4 linked regions of the Homo sapiens genome follow. Changing the gene in region 1 together with any one later gene gives a genetic interaction. Each region holds a gene or a part of one and is shown in the gene's direction. Other genes may lie near its edges.

Evidence for each region.
Region 2: changes in OGFOD1 (region 1) and LIAS together harm fitness less than expected from each alone (positive genetic interaction), as found in Homo sapiens cells (one large-scale study listed by BioGRID).
Region 3: changes in OGFOD1 (region 1) and TCOF1 together harm fitness more than expected from each alone (negative genetic interaction), as found in Homo sapiens cells (one large-scale study listed by BioGRID).
Region 4: changes in OGFOD1 (region 1) and TUBGCP3 together harm fitness less than expected from each alone (positive genetic interaction), as found in Homo sapiens cells (one large-scale study listed by BioGRID).

The regions. Positions count from the first base shown.
Region 1 is NC_000016.10:56,475,554-56,479,604, forward strand, and holds the end of OGFOD1 (prolyl 3-hydroxylase OGFOD1), read left to right. Parts: coding exon 1-12; intron 13-490; coding exon 491-652; 3' UTR 653-3,551; downstream 3,552-4,051.
Region 2 is NC_000004.12:39,465,556-39,469,055, forward strand, and holds part of LIAS (lipoyl synthase, mitochondrial isoform 1 precursor), read left to right. Parts: intron 1-1,962; coding exon 1,963-2,091; intron 2,092-3,500. UniProt on the Homo sapiens protein: Catalyzes the radical-mediated insertion of two sulfur atoms into the C-6 and C-8 positions of the octanoyl moiety bound to the lipoyl domains of lipoate-dependent enzymes, thereby converting the octanoylated domains into lipoylated derivatives.
Region 3 is NC_000005.10:150,364,197-150,367,696, forward strand, and holds part of TCOF1 (treacle protein), read left to right. Parts: coding exon 1-56; intron 57-3,500.
Region 4 is NC_000013.11:112,581,654-112,585,153, reverse strand, and holds part of TUBGCP3 (gamma-tubulin complex component 3), read left to right. Parts: intron 1-992; exon of another isoform or gene 993-1,115; intron 1,116-3,500. UniProt on the Homo sapiens protein: Component of the gamma-tubulin ring complex (gTuRC) which mediates microtubule nucleation.

The DNA.
Region 1 (4,051 bases):
GAAGATGAAGAGGTAAGTTTCTTCTGATAGCAAACTATCATTTTTAGTTATTGAGAATGCTTTCATTTTTCAAAGACCCAATTTTTATGACCTTCTACCAGTGTCTTTAGCTAATAAATCTCTGCCAGGCAATGGTTCTAATTTCTAGTAGAAAATACTCAGGATGGAATAAAGATGCTAAAGGATACTCAGTAAGCATTTATTTTACCCTCCTGAGAAATTCCAAATTAAGAGCCATGTGGTGCATTCCCACAAATCTTACAATGTAGTAAGAAATAAATGTAATAGGTAAGTACCTTTCTAGGTATATGCTGGAATAGGGCTTGTTGGAAAATGGCTTGACAGCCACCCCTAGTAAGTGTTCATTCAGAGGACCCCTCTATCCCCAGATTAAGTGCTTGATATGGAAACCATCTGTTCCATGGTTAATCATCCAAGATTTGAGAATAAGTTCTGTGTTCTGATGTGTCACTGTATTTGTCTTTTTCAGCTGCTAACAGTGAATCCAGAAAGCAATTCTTTGGCATTGGTCTACAGAGACAGAGAGACTCTGAAATTTGTCAAGCATATTAACCACCGAAGCCTGGAACAAAAGAAAACCTTCCCAAACAGAACAGGTTTCTGGGACTTTTCATTCATCTATTATGAATGACAGCACTGGGCAAAGCTGAACAAAAATGTGACCCTTCGTAATTACTGGGAAGTCTGAAAGAGCTAAGCATGGAGTCAAGGAGAACTACATGGTAGCTTGCCTGACAGTGTTCTTAAAACTGGTTGTCTTTTACTAGGACTCATAATGATTGTCCTCAACCGAGACCTTGAGCTTGCAGCTAAGTACTTATCTCTTGATTAAAAAAAAAAAGTTGGCTTTTTTTTTTTTAACATTTAGTCCTTTTTCCATATTGGCTTCTTCAGTGAATTTTTAAGTTCAATTTGTTTTTATTGAGGTAAAATATTTATAACATAAAACTGACCAGCTTACCCATTTTTAAATATGCAATTCAGTGGATTAAGTACATTCTCATTGTTGTCCAGCCATCACCATCATCCATCTCCAGAAGTTTTCCATCTTCCCAAATTCTGTGCCCATTGAACAATAACTCCCCACCTCCCCTTCCCCTAGCAACAGCCATACCTTTTGTCTCTATCATCAACTTCACTACTCATATTTCTCATGTAAGTGGAATCATACAGTATTTGTCCTTTTGTGACTGGTTTCACTTAGCATAAAGTCTTTAAGATGCATCCATGTTTCCAGTGTTTCGGTTTTTTTAGAAAAACTCATACGTGATTGCAGCCGGGCATGGTGGCTCACGCCTGTAATCCCAGCACTTGGGAGGCCAAGGCAGGCGGATCACCTGAGGTCAGGAGTTAAAGACCAGCCTGACAAACATGGAGAAACCCCATCTCTACTAAAAATACAAAATTAGCTGGGCGTGGTGGCACATGCCTGTAATCCCAGCTACTCAGGAGGCTGGGGCAGGAGAATTGGTTGAACCCAGGAGGCGGAGGTTGCAGTGAGCCGAGATTGTGCCACTGCACTCCAGCCTGGGCAACAAGAGTGAAACTCTGTCTCAAAAAAAAAAAAGAAGAAAAAAACATAAGTGATTGCAGAATTTTGTTCTTCTCATAATTTCTGGTTTAGAAAATTATGGAGCCTTACATCCTGATCATGCTGGGCCTTAGAATTCTGACACAGTGAGTCATCACATTTCCTCCCACTGCCTGTGGCCTTGTTCCACCATGACTCTCACAGTACAGTGTAGGCTTAGTGTAGTATTATTCCCTTGGAAAGGGTCTGGCCTACCATCACATGCCCCAAGAAACTTCTGGTTGGTAAAGAAGATAGGCTGCTTATTGCCATGTGTAGTCACTTCCAAGTGCCCACTGCCTTTCCATCCTGCAATTGTGGCCTGTGTATAATTAAATGATTTTAGCCTCACGTGTTGCTTCTGTTTTCCTAAATACTGTAGGGTCAACTATATAACTAATTGCTTTTTATTTTAAGAGACGGAATGCTAAAACCACATCAGAATGCCAAGAGGCTGTGCATCTTGTTAATTTTTTTCTTGAACTGTTCCAGGGAGTTACATCATAATTACCTGTGTGTGGGTATGCATGGGTGGATGAAAGATGCTGTTCTCATTCCATCCCAATAGAGTCTTCTGTTTCCTTTCTCTTTTTTACATTTATTTTTAGCTTTTGCAGTAGTGTTTAGTGTGGGTTTTACTAATTAATAGAAAAAGCACTGGGCCTTTAAACTTCTTAACTACTCTTCTCTTTCATCTCCTAAAACTTTTGAGTATTCATTCTTTTCTGAAGTTTGCATTTAAATGAAAATGACTTTCGCTTTGGCTTTTAGGTTTAGTTTCAAAAAGGTTTAATTCTGCACCCTAGCCAGTTAAGAAATGTTTTAGCAGGTATGCCCTTGATATGGATATTTATATATTTTACACATGTAGTAATATTATTTCTATAACTTACTGTTATAAAACACTAATTTTTAAATGATGAGATAAAAAGAAATATCTAGAACTAGTTCTAACATTGTCTTCCCCTATGCATATGGTAACGAACCATTTTACACCATACTATTTTGGAGACCACAATTTTTTTTGCGTTTGAGATGGAGTCTCACTCTGTGGCCCAGGCTGGAGTACAGTGGCATGATATCGGCTCACTGTGACCTCTGTCTCCTGGGTTCAAGCAATTCTCCTGCCTCAGCCTCCTAAGTAGCTGGGATTACAGGCACCTGCCTCCATACCCAGCTAATTTTTTTATATTTTTAGTAGAGACAGGGTTTCACCATGTTGGCCAGGCTGGAGACCACAATTTTTTAACCACAGTGTAGCAACACTCAAGTGGGATTGCGAATACTGTTACTAATGGTTAATGTCACAGCTTGCCTTTTCTATATTCCAGCTGACTAAAGGTCATCTCACTCACTTGCCTTCTGATGTGTTTTCATGAGTTGAGGGGAAAGGGTGTCAGTGGCATAACTTCAGGAAGACCCAGGGAAAAGTGCTTGGGTAGGTGAAACTGTCATGTGTGCCAAGCTTGGAAAATAGTTTGAGACTCATGGCTGTAGGCACCATCCAAGGCCAATTTTCCAATTCTGGAAAGCCAAATCTGAATCTTAGAATACCTCACAAGTGTTAAAATGTGCTTTTTAGTGTCTCCTTTATCTCAGTGTGTTTATGATCTGTCAACACATAATCATCTTTTATACACTACAAAAAGGGACTCGGGTGTCTGAGGGGAGAGAATCCCTAGGAGCCCAACTCTGATGTTGCTGTCAGTTACATCATCTACAGCAGCACCTCTTAGATTGTGAAGGATGGTGTAACTTAAAAGATTGTGTTTCTGCACTGAAGATAGATACACAGTGATAGTGAAGTTTGTTTTCCTTATAGTACTTCATTTTGCATCTTGATTGCTTTTTAGGGCCTGGGGCCAATGTCAACAACTCTTAGGTAGCAAAAGAAGAATTAGAACATGGGCATCTTTTTTATACCTCTTTCAGATAAAAGCTATGATGTTCACCTGTAAAATATATGGTTTCTCTCTTTATTCTTAATAGTGAGTCTCCAATTCTTATAACTCCCATTTTTATCCCCAAAGAAAATAGCTCTATGGGCCCGGCATAGTGGCTCACACCTGTAATCCCAGCACTTTGGGAGGCCCCGAGGCTGGCAGATTACCTGAGGTCAGGAGTTGGGAGACCAGCCTGGCCAACATGGTGAAACCCTATCTCTGCTAAAAATACAAAAATTAGCTGGGTGTGCTGGCACGTGCCTGTAATCCCAGGTACTTGGGAGGCTGAGGCAGGAGAATCGCTTGAACCCAGGAGGGAGGCAGAGGTTGCAGTGAGCCGAGATCGCACCACTGCACTCCAGCCTGGGCAACAGAACAAGAATCCGTCTCAAAAAAAATAGCTTTCTGTTTTTTCAGACTATATAAATAACACATGCTCATTGTGAGGTAATAACATGTAATATCTAAGGATCACCTGAAATCCCACCATCCTATGACAGCCACTGGTAGCTTTGTC
Region 2 (3,500 bases), on another chromosome or scaffold:
TGAACTTACCCATAGACCTTTAGCCCATAGAATCCCTCCCTCATATTAGAGCATTAGTCTAAACTTTGAATAATTTTCTTTAAAAAGTATAAACCTGGTCTTCTTAGTAATGATTTTTTTTTTTTTTTGAGATGGAGTCTCGCTCTTTTGCCCAGGCTAGAGTGCATGGCACCATCTCACTGCAACCTCTGCCTCCCAGTTCAAGCATTTATCCTGCCTCAGCCTCCCGAGTAGCTGGGATTAGAGGCCCACGCCACCAAGCTCAGCTAATTTTTGTACTTTTAGTAGAGATAGGGTTTGACCATGTTGGCCAGGATGGTCTCAAACTCCTGACCTCAATTGATCCACCCACCTGAGCCTACCAAAGTGCGGGATTACAGGCCTGAGCCATCACGCCCGGCCTGTTTTTTTGGGTTTGTTTTGTTTTTTCTTTTAAGAGACAGTCTTGCTTTGTCATCTAGGCTGGAGTGCAGCGGCCTGATGATCATAGCTCACTGCAGCCTCAAACTTCTGGGCTCAAGCAATCCTTCTGCCTCAGCCTCCCAAGTAGCTGGGACTACAGGTACACTACCACGCTTGGCTAATGTTTTTACATTTTTTTTTAGAGACGGAATCTTGCTATGTTCCCCAGGCTGGTCTCAAACTCCTGACCTCAACCAATACTCCTGCCTCGCCCTCCCAAAGTGCTGAGATTATTCTAATTTTCTACAGCTCAGTACTAGTTTGGCACCTAAGCGCACTTAGTAAATTTTTTAAATGATTCCCTAGTATTTTCTATTTTCTATTTACTATAGTTCATTTTTGAAAAATCTGTTTGCAATCCACTAGGTTTATTTTACAAGCTTCAGTGGGTCTCAGCTTTCAGTTTAAAAAAGCAATAGAACCAAGCACAGTGGTTCACGCCTGTAGTTCTAGCACTTTGGGAGGCCAAAGCAGGAAGATTGCTTGAGGACAGGCGTTCAAGACCAGCCTGGGCAACATAGGGAGATGCTGTCTCTACAAAAAATAAATTAAAAAAAAAAAATAGCTGGATGTGGTAGCATGTGCCCATAGTCCTACCTGCTTGGGAGGCTGAGGCAGAAGGATTGCGTGAGCCCAGGAGTTTAAAGTTACAGTGAGCTATGATGCACTGGGCAACAGAGCAAGACCCTGTTTTTATTTAAAAAAAAAAAATTATAGGATATGTTCTTTGAATATCTCTTATATTCATGATAAGGGTGTACATGTGGTCTTTTCTACATCTGTTCTTTCAGGGAACAACTCCAGACACTTTGCCAGTGGGTTTGTGAAAAAATGTGTCAGCTGTTTCAGTCGTTTTTGCTGGTGTCAAAGGGAACAGCTCTGTGACCCAGTTCACATTATAATACTTGGATGAATAGATATAGCCACAATATAAATAGGAAGATTAATGTTTAGCTCGTACTTCGTTTAACAAAGCTCATGACTCAGCAACCCAGAAAATAGTTTTTAAAACCCGTAGCACTTGTGAAATATTTGCCTAGAGGAAGGGAGGAGAGCATGATTTGATGACTTTTTAAAGAAATCAAAATTAAAGCAATCAAATAATACTCACATTTATATAAGAAATACTTCAATTTACTTTCCAATGAGTAAAGTTTTATATTTAATGTTTTAATATTTCATATTTTAGTTTCTTGCAATTATTTACTTTTTCTAAAACCTACTTAAATTAGGTTTAAAAGTCTACTATATATAATTTGAAATTTTATTCAGTTTGCCTACAGGTGTGTTTTAACCACTGTGTACATAGTATTTAACGGTCTGCTTTTTTTTTTTTAATAATGGTTCATGTATGAACATCTGTATGTTCATACTTTTCTTGACAAAGTTCTAAAGGTTACTGTGTTGAAGCATACTGAACGATTACTGATAATTTCTATTTTGAGGAACAGGTATGTCAGTTCTTTCTCTCTGTTTGATAATTCTCTCTTTTCCCCTTAGGAATCCAAAAATCCTTGTGGAGTGTCTTACTCCTGATTTTCGAGGTGATCTCAAAGCAATAGAAAAAGTTGCTCTGTCAGGATTAGATGTGTATGCACATAATGTAGAAACAGTCCCGGAATTACAGAGGTGAATACGTGTACAAAGTAATGTTGGGAAGTTAGGCGGGTCAAAATATGCCATATATTCTTGCCTTTTCCAGGGCTGAACTTTGCCATTGACTTTTACAAAGTAAACTCTATTCTTTTTTGTTTTTTAGGCAAACTCAATCTATGTCTCTTACATAAAAATCAGAAAATATCACCAACAAAATCAGCATAAATATCACCCATAATAGTATTTCCACCCAGCAATATCAGTTACTAACACCTTAGTGTTTATATTATAAACACTATATTTATACTACATATTTGTATTTTTATATTTATAATATACTTAATTTTTATATTACAAACATTAAGATGTTAGTAACTCATATTACTAAGTTACTGTGTGTGTTTTAATACCCACAAATAATTAACATCTTTTTTCTTTTGTTTTAAAATAATATCATACTGCAAATTTCAATAAGTTGTTTGTTTCCCCCTCCCCACAAATAAAGTTTTCAAAGGAGGGAAAAAATTACACTAGAGCAATTGCTTTGGTTGTAATTCTAAAGAAAAGACTTCAAAAATATATTTGGCTGGATGCTGTGGCTCACGCCTGTAATCTCAGCACTTTGGGAGGCAGAGGCAGGCAGATTACCTGAGGTTGGGAGTTCGAGACCAGCCTGACCAACATGGAGAAACCCCGTCTCTACTAAAAATACAAGATAGCCAGGCGTGGTGGCACATGCCTGTAATCCCAGCTACTCGGTAGGCTGAAGCAGGAGAAGAATCACTTGAACTCGGGAGGCGGAGGTTGCAGTGAGGTGAGATTGCGCCATTGCACTCCAGCTTGGGCAAAAAGAGCGAAACTCCATCTAGAAAGAGAAAGGAAAAAAAAAATATATATATATATATATATTTTTTTATATTATATATATTCATATATATTTATATATATATATTCAGCACTAATATGTGTAATAAATGATGCAGAAGAAAAACTCGTGGCTCACGCCTATAATCCTAGCACTTTGGGAGGCCGAGGCGGGCGGATTACCTGAGGTTGGGAGTTCAAGACCAGTCTGGCCAACATGATGAAACCCCATCTCTACTAAATATACAAAAAATTTTAGCTAGGTGCAGACCTGTAATTCCAGCTACTCTGGAGGCTGAGGCAGGAGAATTGCTTGAACCCGGGAGGCGAAGGTTGCGGTGAGCCGAGATAGTGCCATGGTACTCCATCCTGGGCGACAGCAAAACTTTGTCTCAAAAAAAAAAAAAAAGAAAAAAACTCATATCATTCAGATGTACTTTTTAAAAAAAGTAGACACTATGCTTTCTTATTCCTAATAATTTCAGTAATTAAGACTAATCATTGGCAAGTAACACTGATGTAAGAAAAAAAGTAAGGATTGTTATCCACATCCATTCAAATTTTAGAAAAATGAACAT
Region 3 (3,500 bases), on another chromosome or scaffold:
CACCTCGGAGAGCTCGGAAGAGGAGGAAGAAGCAGAAGCCGAAACCGCCAAAGCCAGTAAGAGCCTTGCAGCTTTGGGAACAGGCTATGGAATATTGATTGTTCTAGGGTAGAGTCTACCTCCAGCTTCTTCTCTTATCACTAGAAGACCTAAAAGACCCTGGGGAGGAGATTGGGAGGGCACCACATATCTTTGGCAGTATTTGAGCCCTTCCTCCGTGCCAGGCATTATATCTCCATGCTCTGGGGGTGCAAGGCCGAACCAAAACAACCAGATGGGCCCTTCCAGTCTCATTTGGTGTATGGGGCCCAGGAGCTGCCCTATTACAGGCTCCCAGGTGATTCTTATTAGCTGGAAAGAAGACACACGTTCAGAAGTACTGCTGGAGGGATTTCAGAAAGCAGCTAGCGGACACATTTTCTGTGTGACCTGTGGGATGCTTTAGGAATTGCTGATCTTCATGTTCATTTAGAATTGTACCCATTAGCACTGGAACGCTGTACTGGGCACTGGTTTTACACCGTTTGCAGGAGTAACTCAGTCAAAGCTTTTATAGCCCCTTCTTCTCCTAAGGTCCCAGGGCTCCTTGTACTTTCCCCAACAGCAGCCATAACTCTACAGAGGAATTGCTGTGTCTCCTTTGCATCGTATTATCTTCTTTTGCTTACATAGAAGACACATTTCTTAATACTTATTTTTTATTTTTCAAGACAAAGTCTTGCCATGTTGTCCAGGCTGGTCTTGAACTCCTGAGCTCAAGTGATCCTCCTGCCTTAGCCTCTTGAGTAGGTGGAATTCCATGCACATACCACCATGCCCAGCTTCCTGAGTCTGCTTTTAAAGTGTTTGAGATCATACTAGGTATATATTTTATTATTTTTTTGAGACGGGGTTTCACTCTTGTCACCCAGGCTGGAGCACAATGGCGTGATGTCAGCTCAGGGCAACCCCCGCCTCCTGGGTTCAAGTGATTCTCCTGCCTCAGCCTCCCGAGTAGCTGGGACTACAGGCATGCACCACTACTGTCAGCTAATTTTGTGGGTTTTCTTTTTCTTTCTTTTTTTTTTTTTTTTTTTTAATAGAGACGGGGTTTCACAATGTTAGCCAGACTAGTCTCAGGTGATCCGCCCACCTTGGCCTCCAAAAGGGCTGGGATTACAGGCATGAGCCACTGCGCCCTGGATATATATTATATATCGCTTAATTTTACATTATAAATGCAAAACGAGTTCACTTTGAACTGTAGAAGAGCATATAGAAGAAAACTTAAAGGTTTTTTGTTGTCCTACCCTGTTCCCTATCATTCCTAAGTGCATCTCCTCATAGGTAACCTTTAAAACTTCCTCCTTTGCCTCTATATTCATTCAAACATGTATTCTTACATGCATATATACAGACCTGCATGCTATTTGAAACACAAATGGTAAAATTTCTTACTGATTGGCTATTTGGTATTAATCAATTTTATAAGCTGTGATAATGGAGGTGTAATTACATTTTTTTGTTTGTTTGTTTGGGGCTTTTTTTGATATGAGGTCTTGCCATGTTGCCTAGACTGGCCTTGAACTCCTGGCCTCAAGTGATCCTCCTGCCTCAGCCTCCGGGTATGTAATTTTATTTTTTTAAAAGTCTTCACTGGGTTGGGCATGGTGGCTCACACCCACCGGTAATCCCAGCACTTTGGGAGGTCAAGGTAGAAGGATCACTTGAGCCCAGGAGTTGGAGACCCGCCTGGGCAACATGGCAAAACCCTGTATCTACAAAAAATTTAAAATTTAGCCAGGCATGGTGGCGTGTGCTTGTAGTTTCAGCTGCCTAGGAGGCCTGAGGTGGGAGGATTACTTGAGCCCAGGAGGTCAAGGCTACAGTGAGCCATGACTGTGCCTGCACTCCAGCCTGGGCAACAGAGCAAGACTGTCTCAAAAAAAAAAAAAAAAGGAAGAAGAGTCCTCGTTGGCATCCTGGGCAACATAGTGAGACTCCGTCTCTGCAAAAAATAAGAAAATTAGCTGGGCATGGTGGCATGCACTGGTGGTCCCAGCTACTCAGGAGGCTGAGATAGGAGAATCATGTGAGTCCAGGCATTGGAGGTTGCAGTGAGCTATGAATGTGCCACTGTACTCCAGCCTGGGCAGCAGAGCAAGACCCTGTCTCAAAAAAAATTTAAAAACGCATCCTCATTGAGAGAGAAACATGCTGAAGTATTTGTGGGCAACGTGGTAGGATCTATGGCATTTTCTTCAAAGTAATGCTTGATGGGGAAGGGTGAGTGAGATAATACATGAGATGAAAAGATTGGTCACAAGTTGTTAATGGTTGGAGCTGCCTGGTTCTTCCTTTCTATTTACTACTTAAAAATTTTCCATAATTACAGAAAGAGAGAGATGGAGTGAAGTGCCAGGAAAAGAATTAGATCATGCCATTCATCTCAGCAACATTCTTCTTTTTTTTTTTTTTTTTTTTTTTTTTGAGACGGAGTCTCGCTCTGTCGCCCAGGTCGGACTGCGGACTGCAGTGGCGCAATCTCGGCTCACTGCAAGCTCCGCTTCCCGGGTTCACGCCATTCTCCTGCCTCAGCCTCCCGAGTAGCTGGGACTACAGGCGCCCGCCACCGCGCCCGGCTAATTTTTTGTATTTTTAGTAGAGACGGGGTTTCACCTTGTTAGCCAGGATGGTCTCGATCTCCTGACCTCATGATCCACCCGCCTCGGCCTCCCAAAGTGCTGGGATTACAGGCGTGAGGCCACCGCGCCCGGCCCAACATTCTTCTTAACAAAAAGAAATCTGAGATTTAAGGAGACAATACCCTGGTATAAAAGCACTGAGAAGCTGGGTGCGGTGGCTCATGCCTGTAATCCCAGCACTTTGGGAGGCCGAGGTGGGCAGATCACGAGGTCAGGAGATCAAGACCATCCTAGCTAACACGGTGAAACCCCGTCTCTATTAAAAATACAAAAAATTAGCCAGGCATGGTGGTGGACGTCTGTAGTCCCAGCTACTCAGGAGGCTGAGGCAGGAGAATAGTGTGAACCCAGGAGGCGGAGCTTGCAGTGAGCCGAGATTGTGCCACTGCACTCCAGCCTGGGCGACAGAGCAGGACTCTGTCCCAGTAAATAAATAAGCACTGAGAATCAGTGAATATCGATATCTAACGGGGCCCAGGTGGCATGGTTCAGCCACCTCTCCACTAAGAAGCCATTTGAATTCCAGGCAACTTTCTCTGTGGACCTGAGGCTGGCTGCCTGCCTGACCACTGCCCCTTCTTGCCGAACAGCTTTCAGGGCTACAGTGTGGTGGCCTGTGTGAATGGTGCCCATTGCAGTGTGCAGTGCCCAGTAGGCAGCAAGAATGTGGGCCAGTCCTTTTCCCTCCAGGGGCCTCCACGTCTCATGCTGCGGGGGAGTTGGGAATCCATCAAGGATGCAGACACATAGCTTCATGTTACCATCCTCTTCTCTCTTGCTCCTGGTGGACCTGGCTGATGCATCACAGAGCTCATT
Region 4 (3,500 bases), on another chromosome or scaffold:
TTTTTTTTAGTACTATGAAATCAAGGCATAATAGGTACTTGTTACTTTTAATGAGAATTTCATATGAATCACATTTTTATAAGGTATCTTTTAAAAAATTATACAGTTGACTTCAAGGGACCTTCAGAAGCAAAGCACCTACATATAATGGTGCTTGACAGTTTTACAAAGTTAGCATGACCATGATTTACCACCTTTTCCAACTTATAACATCTGTGAATTTGCTTGAAACACATACTGCCAGCCAGTCATAGTCAAATCCTGTCTCCATATCCCTGCCCCTCCTGGGAGCACATTTATTTATTATGTCTTTGCGTAATTATTCTTATCATTGGAAACAGTGTGCTTGATGTTAATGTTCAAATCTGTCAGAGGTAACACTTCTTTTCATAGCTACTTTGTAATCCTTTTTCTAACTATGAGGTAAAGAATACATAAAGAGGAATTTATATTAGATAAGTATTTCATCATAAATGTTCAGGTATGACTACAGTACACAGCATATTCGAAGATGATTGCCATAATATGCAAGACCTCTATGAGTGTCCTACAAGCCACTATCAGAAGATAAAGGATTATTGTTTTGGTGATTCAGTACCACAAGTGGTGTTGCTATTGGTTTCATGATTTTCCAAAATGGTAAAGAGCTTTTGATGAAGTTCCAAATACCATGTGATCTTCCTTTGGTTATATAATTACATTCTTGGGAAGATCAATGTGTATTACATGTATATTAAGATATACATTAGATGTGTATTAAAACTTCAGAGTTTCAGGCTTTGTTTCAAGTTGTACTTGATGGATTTACTATTTTTCAATAAGTTAAAATTTAAAAATTGTTTTGGCTTAAATTTCTAATATGGTAACTGTGGATAGATATAACCTACATAAACAAAAGCTTTTTGGAGTTCTCAATCGTAATAGTGTAAAGAAGCCCTGAGACCAAAGAGTTTGAGAACCACGCATCTAGAGTAATGTTTTTGTTGTTTTAGAGCATTGCTTTTCAACTAGAGCCATGCATTGGAATCGCCTGTGATTTCACAAGAACCTGATAACGTTGATTGCCTGTGGGAAGGGGAGCTGGTGGCCAGTGGTTGAGAACAGGACTTTTTATGGTATCTAACTTCATGCCTTTTCATTTTAAACTCTCTAAATGTGGGACTTACTCAGAATTAATATTGTGGGCTTCATCTCTAGGGCTTCTGATCCTGTAGGTGTCTGTTGGAGCTTGGCATCCGAAACATTAAAATGCGTGATAAGTTACTCTGACTTGCATCTGGAGTCAAGGGTGGCTAGTGTATGTGCTCTGTTCCTCTACTAAGCACTGTGGCTTACTCCCAACGCCCTCCTGACCCCTCCCCCATCCTTCAGAAAAGCAGAAGTGTGGAACATATAGTCCACGCTGTCGACAAGAAACAGGAAGGCAGAAACTTGGGTCTCCCCAAACAGTTCAACTTTTCCGCAGTTGTTTTTTGAATCTTGAGAAACACACAACTGTGGAGTTTCTGTATTCACTTGAGTCGAATTTATTTTTGTGCATCTTGAAGTTCAGTTGTCATCTTTAACCTGAGTGTATATAGAATCTTTTGGGGATACAAAGGGCAACTTTTTTGTTTAAAAGCTCTTGGGCCCACATCCAGGTGTCTCTGGAGCCTTCACATTTGGGACTGAACGCAATTCCAGCTGAGGGTCTTGCCTTGGCTTTGTATCTCCTCTAGTTCCTCTTCTCCTCTTCAGTCAGAGGGTCCTTTCTAGAAAACCAATCTCATCGAATCTGTTGAAGGCTTAATTTGTTCTCTATTTGTAGTCTTCAAGATGAAGACCAAATTATCTTGCTCAAGGTTAAAAATTGGGTGCATTTTTTGAGTTGTGATTCTAATGGCTGTAGCAGATATAGTATGTATTTAATATTTTCAGGTTAATAACAATACGAATAGCTAACATTTATATAAAACTTAAAATATGCTGGATGTTGTGCTTATACTGTGGTAGAATTATGGTGAACCTCATTTTCTAGATGAGAAAACTGAGACTTTGAGAGATTAAGTAGTTTGCTCACTATCATCGAGCTAGTAAATTGCGGGGCCAAGGTTGGAACCCAAGTTCTGATTCTACAGCTTGATATTTTGAATTAATTCACCCCGGCTTTTAAGTGTTGAATTTGATGGCGAATTTCTCTGTGTGCTCGATAGAGACAATAAGTCATGGCCCAGCTTGTGGGATGGCTTCTCACCTCTATCCGCTCTTGTGTTTAGAGTGTACAACTCAGCAGCACTGCTCTCTGGTCAGGCAGTGTGCCCTTGCATTCATTGAAATAATTTCAGAGGATCATCAGAGGAGTGTTCACTCCCCTTCCAGGAACCTGAGAACTGCCCACCCCTCACACACCCAGAGCAGATTAGAGGTGGGAGAACTAGACCTCTCCTTAGGTGATTTGTGGCCAAAAAAATGGAGTACTCTATTTTTCACTCTTGCATTAAGCAGAATCATCAGAGATCTACATCTGGACCTTGTCACCTGGGGCTCTCGATGGAGTGACTGACTGAGTGGCATTTAGAGCCCTGTGGCACGGCCTCCCTGCAGCAGCAGTGTCCAGTGCCGCCCTTCCCTGTGGGTTCCCCTCTCTGGTCCCTGGGCTCCTCACGTGGCAGCCTTGGCTGCCAGGCTAACGGTGTTTCCTGCAAGGCCTTCCCTCAGCATCTACTTCACGAGGTCCTCCTGGTCATGAGCTGTCATAGTGCCCTCATTTTCTTTGACGCTCTTATCACAGTCTGCCTTGGGTACTTATGTGCCACATTTGTTATGTTCTACGTCTGTCTCATTAACCACTGTACATCATATTGTTAGGGCCTGACGTGTTTGGCCTGTAGTAAGTATTTAGGAGTTATTCATTGAATTACTGATTGAGTTTAGTTATACTTTAAACACTGAACAGTATTTTGGGAGTATTTAAACCAGAAGCGTGTAGTGGACATTGCTTGATTTTTTCCCAGCTTATTCTTTGATTGCAGGTTCACTAAACAAGGAATGATTGCTATGTCTAATTTCTTTAGTAGTCTGGATTCTGTGCTTTTCCCTCTGAAGCACAGATTAAGTAGATTTGGTTTAAGAGGTAACAGTTGGATTTTTAAAAATATTTTATAATCAGCAAGAAGGATAAACTGGAAATTTGGTTGGTAAGAGGACAGGGAGACTCAGGTGTGGCTGAAGAGGTAAGTGGGGGTGAAATGATGACATCCATCTGAGGTGCAGAGAAAGTGAGGAGGTGAAGAGGAGAGTGTTTCTGGCATTGAAGAGTTCCTAACTTTTTGGTATGAGAAAGTTGAAAAGTATATAAAACATTTGGATTGGGGATATTTATGTGATGTACTTGAGTGTGAAAATGGTAACCTAAAAATAATTTTTACTGGCTGGGTACGGTGGCTCACACCTGTAATCCCAGCACTTTGGGAGGCCAAGGCGGGAGGATTGCTTGATCCCAGGAGTTCGAGACCAGCCTG